Linked DNA regions of Homo sapiens. The protein of the gene in region 1 purifies or fractionates together with the protein of each later gene. This does not show direct contact. Each region holds a gene or a part of one and is shown in the gene's direction. Other genes may lie near its edges.

Region 1 (7,123 bases):
CACATATCTTTGTGGACAGCTCTCAAAACTGTAATGGCTTACATTTGTATAGAGCTTCACGGTTTGCAGAGCCCTTTTGCCAATGTTGAATCCTTCTCTCTTACTCATCAGGTTTCAGGCAATAGATGGCTTTTGGTTTTCTGGACCTTAGCCTCTCAGAACCTGATTATACCAATAGACATGGGGAGTGGGTTGGTGGACCAGTCACTGAGGAGGCTTAGCAATGTGCATGTCTGCCCTGATGACTCCCCTTGCTTCTGTAGGTGGGAGGCCACCCCATGGACCGCGTGCTCCTCCTCGTGTGGGGGGGGCATCCAGAGCCGGGCAGTTTCCTGTGTGGAGGAGGACATCCAGGGGCATGTCACTTCAGTGGAAGAGTGGAAATGCATGTACACCCCTAAGATGCCCATCGCGCAGCCCTGCAACATTTTTGACTGCCCTAAATGGCTGGCACAGGAGTGGTCTCCGGTAACTGTGCCTTCTTTCTTTGTTCATTAGGAGAGTAAGTCCACTCTTCCCTCTCATCATCATGGCCCCACCGGGTACCCTGAGCAGCTCCACACTCTTCTTGAGGTGTCTAGAAGCCTACCAGCTTAGCTCCTGGAGTAGGAATGCCCCAAATCCAGCATGACCAAAAGTAAATGATGTTTTTTTAAAGTGTCTTTCTTCAAGTTTCTTCAAGAAGCCTCTATTGTTCCCCAGATAATGTTCCCTCAAATAGCACGGGGAAGCAACTGCCTTTCAAGGGTAATTGAGGCTGAATGAATGATCCCGAATCTGTAAAAGCTGCTTTGATGATAGAGCTCAGTAGACCAGAAGTTTGATTTCATTTTGTATGTATTATGCTTTGTATCCGAAAGGGTCTAAGTGGATTAATATTAAAACTATGTATATTAATCATTGGAGAAGGGGGAAGAGGAAATGAAAATAGCACAAAAATTAAAATTGGAACGAAGTAAGATAATTAAAACAAAAAACTTATAGATGTTAGGAAACCTGCTGTAATTAAACATAAAATGTCATTCAGGGTTTCCTGACTGCTAATGCAGAAAGGAAAATCGTAAAGGAAACAGAAAGATGAAATAAGCCATTGTGCCCTCCGCCTCAGAAATGACAAAAGACTCTTCACTGAGCCCTGTGGCTTCATGGCAGCAGATCAGAGCTGTGACATTTTCTACATCTAGACATGCTACCAGACATGGGGAACCATTAGAGGTGCAATCTACATTGGGCATCTGGTCATTCAATCTGTTTTTTTAAATGTTATTTTTGCCTTTCAATGTAATCAATTGGATTAACAATGCTGCAATATAATTTAGCTATAATCGTAGTTTAAATTTTTTGATATCCATGTAGGGGTATTTCCCATATTTTTGGAAGTAGCGGTCATTAGCAAAGTAACTAAATAAAATACAGTGCTGGTAGTCAAAATTAAGCACACTCTACAGTCTCTTTTCTCCTTTCTTCTTTTTGGTGCTTGGTTTGAGACTTTGCACACAGTGGGTACTTAAAGATTGCTGACTGATTAATCCAAAGCTATGGAATTGAAAGTGATTTAATTTTCAGCGAGCTTCACCTCAAATAGCCAAATAGAACAAAGATCCCTTGACTGGTAAGAAGTGGTATAAATTTACCAGGAGTCCTCGTGTGGGGGGGGGGGGCGGGGAAAAAGAAAACTTAGATTAAAAGTTTTCGATGGGAAGTGAAGAAAAGTAAACAAGGCTTTGCCTACGAGTCTCCTCTCTCTTGCAATCTCTTTCCAGTGCACAGTGACATGTGGCCAGGGCCTCAGATACCGTGTGGTCCTCTGCATCGACCATCGAGGAATGCACACAGGAGGCTGTAGCCCAAAAACAAAGCCCCACATAAAAGAGGAATGCATCGTACCCACTCCCTGCTATAAACCCAAAGGTAACTTGACAGGTGCTCTATTACCAGCCTGTTAATTGTTGTGTGTAGTCAGGTGTGTTTTAAACTCCTTGGAATATTTTTAAGTATCCCAAGTATTCTTAGTAAGAATTCTTTATAACTTAAACTCTACTAAAGGAATTTGATTATCTTAAAGAATCTTTCAAGTGATTTTGATTGCAAAATTTCATTAACCACTACATGTAGAAATATATTTATATAATTATCTCCCAAGTCATAAAGTTGTTTGAGGACTATTGCTGAAGAATACGGATGTACCTGCTTAAAGGGAGACCAGATATTCTAGAAATATATGTTTGATTTACTATCCACATTTCTTGCCTTTAAAAACAAGGGAGTGAATCCAAGTATGTCTATTTTGCTAAGGCTGAAGTACATTGGGAAGTCTCATACTTCAAACTGATGAAACAGAAAACTGTCACTTTTTATATTGAAAATTAAAACATTAATATGAGACTGAATTCCAGAACCATAATTTAAAATATATCAGAATTTAAAAGATATTGCAATAATTTATAAAAAAGAAATTTTAGGAAAGTGTAGAACTAAGCATTTAGTGAGCCAGACTTATAATTACACTGGATATCTCAGATTAGCAAGAATATGAATTTGATTTCTGTACAAGTATTGTTACTTGTCTGTGTCAATGGAAAAGAAAAATTCAAAGTCACAAACCATTCAGAAGTAAAGAACTCTTTAAACCCCCTTTAATTTTTAATATTAAATATGGCTCCCATTTCTTTATTTTTTAAGCCATTAAATTTCTCTGAAAAATCAGTCACAGTGTAGCTCTTTATTATACTATAGGTGGCCCTAATTGCAACTGAATGGCATCATAAAATCTAAATTAATGATATAAAAGGAAACAAAAAAAAACAGAAATCCTGATTAACTTTAATAAATGCATCTCTCTCGAAGCCTTGGTTTCCTCCTCTGTAAAATGGGTGTAATAATAGTATCTAAATCAGAGATCATGCGTAGGTTAAATGAGATATAACATAAACAGGGTGGTTAACCTAGTGCCTGCAATATAGTAACTTCTACATACAGTAAGTTACTTTTAACTCCTGACTATCGTCAGTGCCCTCAACTATGGGAGGAGGTTGCCACAGGTGCGTCTGACAGGATTTAGTTCAAAACAGCAATAAAGTATTACAAGCTTACTATGAGTGCCAAACTGAATGCTTCCTTATTGAAAGACAGAGAGCTAACTATGCCACCAGAGACAGCTTCATTTACTGAGGTTTTTTTTGTTTTTTTTTTTTGAGACGGAGTCTCACTCTGTTGCCCAGGCTGGAGTTCAGTGGCGTGATCTCGGCTCACTGCAACCTCTGCCTCCCAGGCTGAGGCGATTCTCCTACTTCAGCCTCCGGAGTAACTGGGATTACAGGCGCATGCTGCCGTGCCCAGCTAATTTTTTGTATTTTTTTTTTTTGGTAGAGACGGGGTTTCACCTTGTTGCCCAGGCTGGTCTCGAACTCCTGAGCTCAGGTAATCGCCTCGGCCTCCCAAAGTGCTAGGATTACAGGCGTGAGCCTCCACGCCCAGCCGACTGAGTCATTTACTGGGATAGTTGGAGTAGTTGTAAAATGATGTATGTATAGGTACGGTGTTGCTGTGTTTAAAATGTTAGCAAATCATTTTGGCTTTGGCAGTTTTATATTTCTCACTTGCTTTGTTTTTTGACTATAAATAATTGCTGTGCATAGAGAACAAGAAGTGATGCCCCTAACTTAAAATAGTCAATTGTTTATTAGCTTTATCTTTACCAAGCCACTTCAGAGAAAGAAAAGCAGTTTGCAGTTAACTATCAAGAATCAAGTCTGGATTTTCACAACCAAGGAGTGAGCCTGGCTCTCTAAACATCATTAAAATACCATATAATTCTATGGTGCATATATGTATAGACATATTTCTTTCATCTTTGCAATTGTATGTTATAAAATGGTGATAGAGCATCATTGGCTCATACTATAAAGGCAAATATCCCCATAAATGACCCTAATAAATATGCTAGAATGGGAATCTTGGCAGTTACTTCTGTAAGAGCCGTTAGAACATCCCTCTTCATTTTTCTCCTCCACAATTTTTTTCCCAGGAAGTAACTAGGAAGTTTGTTTTGAATTGTTTGGCCAAAGCTAGATAAATAGGTGAAATAAGTCAAATTATGTGTTATGAACCCTCATTTGCACATATTCCAATTGTCAGTGAGCCTTGGGGTAGTACTGAATGAGTCAGATATCTAAATCAATGTTTTGTGAATTTCAGAGTGAAAGAGTTTGTTTTTGGCAATGTGACATAGATCACACTTAGCTAAAAGGCAAAAAAAAAAAAGTTAGAATTTATGAAAATATCACAATATAATTGACTGTACTTTGTTTTCCAAGGTAAATGCTGCTCTATCTTTTCAAGAGGGAATGGTAAAAAGATACTTCGATGATTCTTTATATGCATATTGAGCTAGTGCTCCTACACTTACAACTTTCATAATAAAATGACTTTCCTTTGCTATTCATCATAATAAAGAGAAAGCTTGCACACAAACTAGTATTATTAAACATTTTAAAATTCGACTTTATTTTTCTAGATATAACCATCATCAGAGGCAGCAATTTACCCAAAAACTTATTCGTGTTGGTCAACGTAGTAACTTCTTGGTGAGGAGAATAAGGAATTTTCCTAAAATCCCAGATTGGTTCTAACCTCTTCTTTTGTATGTGCATGCACTGAATTCTCAGAGAAACTTCCAGTCGAGGCCAAGTTGCCATGGTTCAAACAAGCTCAAGAGCTAGAAGAAGGAGCTGCTGTGTCAGAGGAGCCCTCGTAAGTTGTAAAAGCACAGACTGTTCTATATTTGAAACTGTTTTGTTTAAAGAAAGCAGTGTCTCACTGGTTGTAGCTTTCATGGGTTCTGAACTAAGTGTAATCATCTCACCAAAGCTTTTTGGCTCTCAAATTAAAGATTGATTAGTTTCAAAAAGTGTTTGTCAAAGCTGATGATTGCATTGTAAATACTTCTGTTTTGCCTAAAGTAAGAAAATGAAGGTGTAGTGCTTACCCTCTTCTCCAAAATCTGACCTCCTCTCTTCTCTGCGCAAGGGGCCAAAGGTGAGAAGGCCCAGGCTGCAGCTGATGATATAACATAGATTTGATGCCAAAGTCTGAGCTGCTTTTCACACTCTCCCAGTTTTGCAATACAGTCACAAAAATTAAAGAGCAAGTAAAGTATACCTGAGGGCAAAGGAAGTTCATTAACTTTTCTTTTCCCTTTCTTCCTGGGATTGGTATCAGGGATGGACCTGCTTATTTGCCCCACTTGATTATGTCCCATGTCTACTCAATTTTATCAAGTCCATGGAATCTGTAAAACCGTGAGGCCCAGATTTGCCAGTGTCTTCAGAAGAGGAAACAAATAGGAGAGACAAAAGTAGATTAAGTGGATGATTGATAAGTTTATGTATTGATTTCATTAGAAAACACTGATAGGCATAGCTGCTACATCACTTTTACAAACGAGGGGATACAATTGATTGAAAAATTTCATCTATGACCCAAGAAATTTCTCAGGTTGAAAAATTTTCTAAATTAATTCATTTAATGTAAGTTCTAAGCTCTGTGCTATTCACTGGCACTTAAGATAACTCATCCACCCTCCAAGAGTTAATAGTGGAGCATGTAGGATATAAAATGATTTCCAAATTTTACTGGAGATATAAATTAACGTTGCAACCTATTTAAATGCAATTTAGAATTTTCTCAGATTCATTCTGTTTGAATCTAAATCTGATGTGGTTTGCCAGAACACAACTGTGTTCCTGAGTGCACAAGAAATCCAAAATATAGATTTGTACCATAACCAAAGGTCACTTGTAAAGAAACTATATTCTGTCATTTGATTTCACATACACCAAAAGGATGCACACATTAGAAAACACTTTTTTTCCCTATTTTTTTTTTTTGAGATAGGGTCTCACTCTGTCACCCGGGCATGGATGTAGTGGCACGGTCATAACTCACTGCAGCTTTCACCTGCCAGGCTCAATGAATTCTCTCACCTCAGCCTACCGAGTAGCTGGGACTACAGGTGCAGGCCACCACACCAGGCTATGTTTTTAATTTTTTTTGCAGAGACTGGGGTTCTCCATGTTTCCCAGGCTGGTCTCAAACTCCTGACCTCAAGCAATCCGCCTGCCTCAGCCTCCCAAAGTACTGGGATTGCAGGCGTGAGCCACAGCGCCTGGCCCGGGAAAACACATATTTTTACTTAGAAGGATAATTAAGCAAACATAAATTATTTCTGTACTGTAAAGTTACTACAGCAAACTTTTTGACTTCTTTGAGAAAAAGCAACTAACCACTGCAGAACTTTGGAGGAAAGGGAGTGATTAAAGATCACAGTGTAACCTTGGAATGAAAATATAAAGGCTTACAATTTTTTGCTTCTCCTCTGCCAGTACCTGATTTGACAGGCCTTTTTGTTGCTGAGGAGTAAATAAGCAGTTCTTTTTAGGGGGGCATTAATAACTTCTTAATCCAGTAAGGTCCTATTTAAGACACAGAAAGATGCTATGTAATTAGAGCTGGTGACTCCTTTTATATCCTATTGGGTTAAATCTATTTGAAACCAGTTATGTTTTATTTTACCTAAATAAACTCTTTTCCCCTTGTACACTGTATTTTGTCACTTGGACTAAAGCGTAATCCTATGTATAATCTTGCGTTCTGGCTGATGGTAAATAATAATACAAAATTGAAAGTAAATGGAAACATCTTACATCGATAAGCATCTTCCCATTATTAGATGCCTTTCAGATGAAAGCTATCAGTGGAGTTTAATGCATCCACAGAAGCATTACATAGACCATCGTCAACCATATTTTGTCATGAATATTTTCTACTAAAGATCCGATTAAGATGCATTACGTTTAACTTTAATCTTAATAAAATCTTTAAAGTAGTTAAAAAAGTTTTAGCCATTGAAAGTATAGCCATATATTAAACTATTAAAATTTACTCTTAGTGTAATGAAATTGCCATCTTGGCATGATTAATCTGAATTGGAGTAGATTGTAATTGGAGTGCTGGTGCAGGGTAAGGGAAATGTATACTATTGTGCTCAGAATAATAATTACTTTTATACCAAAATAAAATAAATGACAGCTGTAGAATAATGTAATGAAAGGTATATGGTTTC
Region 2 (7,000 bases), on another chromosome or scaffold:
GAGATCAGTTTTTAAGTAAGAGAAGGGGTTTGTAAATGAGTCCTGGAAATTATCGCATGCTATCGAGTTAAAGCCTCGGTTATATAATCTCATCGATTATAACTCACACCAGTGTTTTGTGTACCACTAAGAAAGAAAGAATGCTGCCAGTTAACCGTGACATGCTATTAATTGTGAAATACATCACCTTTCTTTCTTTTCTTTTCTTTCTTTCTTTCTTTTCTTTTCTTTCTTTTCCTTTCTTTTTCTTTCTCTTTCTCTTCCTCTTTCTTTTTCTTTCTCTCTCTTTCTTTCTCTCTCTCTCTCTCTCTCTGCATTTCCATTTATTTCCATTATCAGCAGGTGAAGAGGCATCTGCCACCTCACCCAGCTAACTTTTGTATTTTTAGTAGAAATGGGGTTTCACCATGTTGGCCAGGCTGGTCTCGAACTCCTGGCCTTGTGATCCACCCGCCCCTTCCTCCCAAAATGCTGGGATTACAGGCATAAGCCACTGCGCCTGGCTGAGAAAACATTTTTAACTGATGTTAATGAGCAGCTTCTAAACACATGATTAGGACGCAGAAGTCGTTCCCTCTGGTGGAATCTATAATGATTACATTAATTCATTTTGATTAATTAGAAATATTCGTATCTAAGAGCATCCATGTTGAGAGTTTTTTGTTTCTAAGTGGATTATGATTTATGTAAGATAGAAAAGACAATGGGACTGGGGCATGGTGGCTCACGCCTGTAATCCCAGCACTTTGGGTGGCTGAGGTGGGCAGATCACTTGAGGCCAGGCCACTTCATGACCAGCCTGGCCAACATGGCAAAACGCCTTCTCTACTAAAATACAAAATTAACCGGGCTTGGTGGCACACGCCTATAATCCCAGCTACTTGGGAGGCTGAGGCATGAGAATCACTTGAACCTAGGAGGCAGAGGTTGCCGTGAGCTGGGATCACACCACTGTACTCCAGCCTGGGCAACAGAGGGAGACTGTCTCCAAAAAAGAAAAAAAAAGAAATGGCGGGGATAACCGTGTAGTACTTATTTAGGAAATAGAAAAATAAGGGTATATTGTGTTTACTATTATTTCTTTCTTTCTTTCTTTTTTTTTTTTTTTTTTTTTTTGGAGACAGAGTCTCGCTCTGTCGCCCAGGCTGGAGTGCAGTGGTGCGATCTCGGCTCACTACAAGCTCCGCCTCCCGGGTTCACGCCATTCTCCCGCCTCAGCCTCCTGAGTAGCTGGGACTACAGGAGCCCACCACCACACCCGGCTAATTTTTTTTTTGTATTTTTCGTAGAGACGGGGTTTCACCATGTTAGCCAGGATGGTCTCGATCTGATGGTCTCGATCTCCTGACCTCGTGATCCACCCGCCTTGGCCTCCCAACGTGCTGGGATTACAGGCGTGAGCCACCGCGCCCGGCTACTATTATTTCTTTTAAGGTGGTAGTTTGGTTTCAGGGTCCCCCAGCACTGCAATGGCAGCCTATCCCTTCTGTCCTTTAGTTCATGCTCTGCTCATTGCACAGGTTAGGATAAACTGGTAGTAACATTGCTTCCTAATCATGTGTTGAGAAGTCGTGAAGATCAGTTAGATGAGATGTATTTTGTACTTTAAACTTTTTAGATACGAGCTTTGTCAAAGTACAAAATTGATCCCTATAAAATCTATGACACAGCACAGCCAAGGCCAACTACTGTGGATTCTGTTTTGTAAGAAGAGAGTTGAGGACTAAATTTCAATGTGATGTAGAGTTAATCCGTAGTAATGTTCATTGACCATTGGGGATAAATTTTTACATGCCCACATTACTTATTGTAAACCCTGAAGACCTTTAGCGATGTATGATTCTGCCCTGGAATATGTATTTACTCTTTTGGATATTTGCTTATATTATCTAGGGAAACATAGTTGAAATTATTTCTTCCTTGGAGCTCTTGTTAACAGCGCTATAAATAAGTGTTCTATGGAGTTATTTTTGCTCTTTGAAACAAACAGGTAAAACCTAAATAAAGCAAAAAAAAAAAACCACACACATTCTAAAAAATTCAACCAATCAAACCAGCAAATAACACCAACAACCTCCCCTTCCAAAAATTAGAGAAGTTTTTATGCTAAAACTTAGGTAGAATTTGCTTAGTGGATTAAATGTAAATACGAAATGAACTGTGGGAACTGTGGCCTTGAAATAATTAGAAGAAGAGAGATCATCAGGTTCTGCTGCTGGCTTTTTAGGTAGTAAAATGGTAAATCTTATATTTAATTTCATAAGAAGGGGGTTTACATTTTCCTGACCTTCTCCTTGAAGGCCAAAGCTGTTTGGCAAGAAGGGGTTGTAGGATGCAGTTTCTAAAGGAAGGCTGAGATCCTTTTCTCTTCTCTCCTGTAGACTACATTTGGTCAATTTTGTGGAACCTGTGGGCCTCAATTACTCCATGTTTATTCCTACCTTGCTGAATCAGGGCACCACTGCTCAGAAAGAGAAATGGCTGCTTTCATCCAAAGGACTCCAGATAATTGGCACCTACGCCCAGACGGAAATGGGCCACGGTTAGTCCACATTGAGGGTCTGTGGGTAACCCACCTCAGGACATCAGTTAACAGTGATTGCTGGCATTTGACTTTTTTCTGCTGCTACCTGTTTGGGATTCTATTTTTAAGTTGTTAAGTCAAAATTCAACTTCTTGTTTTCTCCTAGACATTTTCCCTGGAAACTGGTCCAGGGCTCTGGCCTATAAACGTCATTCACTGTTATTTCCTAAAGCCTTTTATTATTGAACAGCTTGAAAAGATGGGGTTTACAGTGCAGCGGGGAACCCCATTATGTTACTCTGGGTCTAATGAGTAAAGACTTTGTTGGAAATTCTTCAGAGGGTTAGTGCCTCAGCAATATCTGGAAAGCGCCTCTCTGCTCTAATGCAGTTAAAGCTGTGGATTTTAATGGGGGCAGCAGGCAGTGGCAGCTACCTGTCTCATCTCATTGCCCACTAGCAGGGTTATAAGGCAGTTTGGAAAAAAGTCCATGATTCTCTTCATCTGACTTCAGTCTTTTTAGACATTTTTTCCCCTACATGTCTGGGAACTCTTGTGTTGCCAGTAATTCTTTGTTAAATTGTTCCTAAATATCTGGCTTCCTTCAAAAAGTTTTGCTTTTGATCTTAATGTGAAATAGGTTTGTTTTCATAGACAAGGCCATTGGCAGGTTTGAGTGTTTGGAATTTGAACTGCCCAGCCTCATGTCTAATTATCAAAATGGCAGGAGTAAAGAAAGGGAAAGAAAAAGGGATGCAGATATCAGGGAAACATCATTTTGTGTTTGATTGCTGATTTCAGTGTGTGAATTGGTTTAAGGAAAATGTTATTTATTGTCATCTCCATGGGTACTGCAGCTTTCTGGTCATGGTTTGATGTTCCAGACACTTTACTAAACACTCAAGACTTCAACTTCAAGATGGTCAGTACTGAAATTATAAGCCTGAAAGAAAGGTTTGTAAAGGAAGATAAGATTCTTTTTTTTTTTTTTTTTTTTGAGACAGAGTTTTGCTTTTTTTGCCCAGGCTGGAGTGCAATGGCATGATCTCAGCTCACTGCAACCTCCGCCTCTGGGTTCAAGTGACTCTCCTGCCCGAGCCTCCCGAGTAGCTGGAATTACAGGTGCTCACCACCACGCCCGGCTGATTTTGTATTTTTAGTAGAGACGTGGTTTCTCCATGTTGGCCAGGCTGGTCTTTAACTCCTGACCTCAGGTGATCTGTCCACCTTGGCTTCCCAAAGTGCTGGGATTACAGGCTACAGGCGTGAGCCACCGCGCCTGGCTGACAGATCCTTCCTTTTTTTTTTTTTTTTTGGAGACAGAGTCTCACTCTGTCGCCCAGGCTGGAGTGCAGTTGTGCCATCTCGGCTCGGTGCAAGCTCCGCCTCCTGGGTTCACGCCATTCTCCTGCCTCAGCTCCTCAGTAGCTGGGACTACAGGTGCCCGCCACCACGCCCGGCTAATTTTTTGTATTTTAGTAGAGACGGGGTTTCACCGTGTAAGCCAGGATGGTCTTGATCTCCTGACCTCGTGATCTGCCCTCCCAAAGTCCTGGGATTACAAGGCATGAGCCACTGCACCCGGCCTGAGAGATAAGATTCTTTATGTAGTCCTCCTCGCTTGGAGTATCTGTGTGTTTGTGTACATGCATGCGTGGTGTGTGTGTGTGTTGTAATTTTGAAGTAGCTTTGTGGTACAGAACTCTGTTTCAGTATTCATCATTATAGAATTTATTCGACTTAACAGTCATGCTGTTCATAGGAGGCATAAGATGTGAAATAGTCTGAGGCTAATGGATTTGTTAAGTATACCTCTTACCTCTTGTTGGTCTAATGCTTCTGCCTCATTTATAAAGTAATATCACAAATATATATTTGCCCTAATTTTTTTTTTTTTTTTTGAGTCAGAGTCTCATCCTGTGCCCCAGGCTGAAGTGCAGTGGAGTGATCTCAGCTCACTGCAACCTCCACCTCCTGGGTTCAAGGGATTCTCCTGCCTCAGCCTCCTGAGTAGCTGGGATTACAGGCACCTGCCACCATGCCCGGCTAATTTTGTTATTTTTAGTAGAGATGGGGTTTGGCCATTTTGGCCAGGCTGGTCTCAAACTCCTTACCTCAGGTGATCCACCTGTCTCAGCCTCCCAAAGTGCTGGGATTACAGGTGTGAGTCACCACGCCCGGCCTGCCCTAATTTTTGAAAGGAGAGAGGAAGAAAGGAAGACTTGAACTATACTGGTTTGAGGCAAACAGAAGTTGGACAGAGATCCTATATGGCTGTGGGCAAGTTTGCATTTGTTAGAGTTTTCGTTCCCTTATTGCTTTTAGTTTTGGGTATTTTTTTTTTTTTTTTTGAGACAGAGTTTTGCTCTTGTTGCCCAGGCTGGAGTGCAATGGCGCGATCTCGGCTCCCCGCAACCTCCGCCTCCCAGGTTCAAGTGATTCTCCTGCCTCTCCCTCCCTAGTAGCTGGGATTAGAGGCGTGTGCCACCATGCCCGGCTAATTTTGTATTTTCAGTAGAGACGGGGTTTCTCCATGTTGGTCAGGCTGGTCTCGAACTCCCGACCTTAGGTGATCTGCCCGCCTCGGCCTCCCAAAGTGCTGGGATTATAGGCGTGAGCCATCATGCCCAGCTAGTTTTGGGTATTTTCTTGTATTTAAACCAACGTTGTCTTAATCTCTGTGGTTTAGAGAACAGTGTCCTAAGATTAGTCTTTTTTCTTGCTGGAATTTTGCTAATTCATATTGCTGTTCTTGGTTGATGACTGATCTTTTCCTTGGAAATAAGTCAGGTTGGTTAATTTGCATCACGTGACGGTTTTATCTTATATGGAATACACAAAAAGTCAACGTCCAGGAGATCGGCAATAGAGCAGCTTATATAGAATGAGATCTAACTATTTAAATTCTGAGACTTTGGAAAATGGATCAACAGTGAACAGTGATTATCTAACGCGGTCTCACAGAAGTAGCTGTAACTTTGGGTTTGGGATTCTTTCACTTCTGGGTAGCTGCTGAGAAGTGAAGGGGCTCAGAAGTATTCAGGTTCACTCCATGTTCCTTCCAAATCCTAAAATTCAGTCACCTACAGAAAGTCTCAGTCACCAGCATTATCCTTCTTTCTAGAGTGTGTCTTCTTTCCTCTAAGGACACGAAGAAACTCGGATATACACCTGCCCTGTGGGTCTGGGAGCCATAATCAAAGGCAGAGGCCTGAACCTGGGTGATAGGCTCACCTCCCTGGAGTTCTGGGATCAAAGGAACAGCCTGGGGAACTGGGTCCATGTTATCATCCTGACCATATGTTTCTTTAGGCCACAAAACAGGTCGTTTGTTTGCTCTTCACAGATATGTAATCATTTCAAGATGTGGCCATTTCTGGAGATTCTTCTTGCTTTGTTTTCCTTGTTTGCTTGCTTGCTCACTTCCTTCCTTCCTTCCTCTTTTTTTTTTTTTTTTTGAAGGAGTCTCATGTTGCCCAAGCTGGAGTGGTGCAATGGTACAATCTCGGCTCACTGCAACCTCCACCTCCCCCTGGTTGAAGTGATTCTCCTGCCTCAGCCTCCTGAGTAGCTGGGATCACAGGTGTGCACCACCATACCTGGCTAATATTTATATTTTTAGTAGAGACAGGGTTTCACCATGTTGGCCAGGCTGGTCTTGAACTCCTGACCTCAGGCGATCTGCCCACCTCGGCCTCCCAAAGTGCTGGGATTAGAAGTGTAAGCCACTGCACCCGGCCTCTTTCTCGCTCTCTTTCTGTCTTCTTCCCTTCCTCCATTCCTTTCGTTCCTTTCTTTCTTTATTCCTCACCCATGGACTGGGGTCACATTGCCTTGTTTCGTATTACCATCTATTTAGGAATATAGAGATTGTATGATACATAGTTATCCTTGAAGCTGATGCAGTATCCTGGCAAATTGCCATCATTAACACTTAAATATGAAATAATGCACCTTTCTTTGAAACTGGAAAGAGGTAGTAAACTTGATTTTTAAGTCATCAGTCTTTACCGCACTCCGTTGCCCTCTCTCCCTAGGCTTAACAGTCTCCTCTTCCCTCTGCCCAAGTGATTCTCTTCCCTGTTGGACTTCTCATGAGACTTGCTTCCCTGGGGATTTGGGCTAAATTTCACCAATATTAGTGATAATAATATAAACTTTATGAAAGCTGTGTTCTGGCCAGGCACGGTGGCTCACGCCTGTAATCCCAGCACTTTGGGAGGCCAGCGTGGGTGGATCACCTGAGGTCGGGAGTTCGAGACCAGCCTGACCAACATGGAGAAACCCCGTCCGTACTAAAAATACAAAATTACCTGGGTGTGATGGTGCGTGCCTGTAATCCCAGCTACTAGGGAGGCTGAGGCAGGAGAAGCTTTTGAACCTGGGAGGTGGAAGTTGTGGTGAGCTGAGATTGCGCCATTGCGCTCTAGCCTGGGTAACAACAGTGAGACTCCGTCTCAAAAAATAAATAAATAA

What was found.
Region 2: the proteins of ADAMTSL1 (region 1) and ACOX1 purify together in Homo sapiens (affinity purification with mass spectrometry; 2 studies listed by BioGRID and IntAct, with this or other methods). This does not show direct contact.

The regions. Positions count from the first base shown.
Region 1 is NC_000009.12:18,680,049-18,687,171, forward strand, and holds part of ADAMTSL1 (ADAMTS-like protein 1 isoform 4 precursor), read left to right. Parts: intron 1-263; coding exon 264-468; intron 469-1,763; coding exon 1,764-1,911; intron 1,912-4,667; coding exon 4,668-4,752; coding exon of another isoform or gene 4,753-4,756; exon of another isoform or gene 4,757-4,909; intron 4,910-7,123.
Region 2 is NC_000017.11:75,969,167-75,976,166, reverse strand, and holds part of ACOX1 (peroxisomal acyl-coenzyme A oxidase 1), read left to right. Parts: intron 1-2,381; coding exon of another isoform or gene 2,382-2,542; intron 2,543-7,000. UniProt on the Homo sapiens protein: Involved in the initial and rate-limiting step of peroxisomal beta-oxidation of straight-chain saturated and unsaturated very-long-chain fatty acids.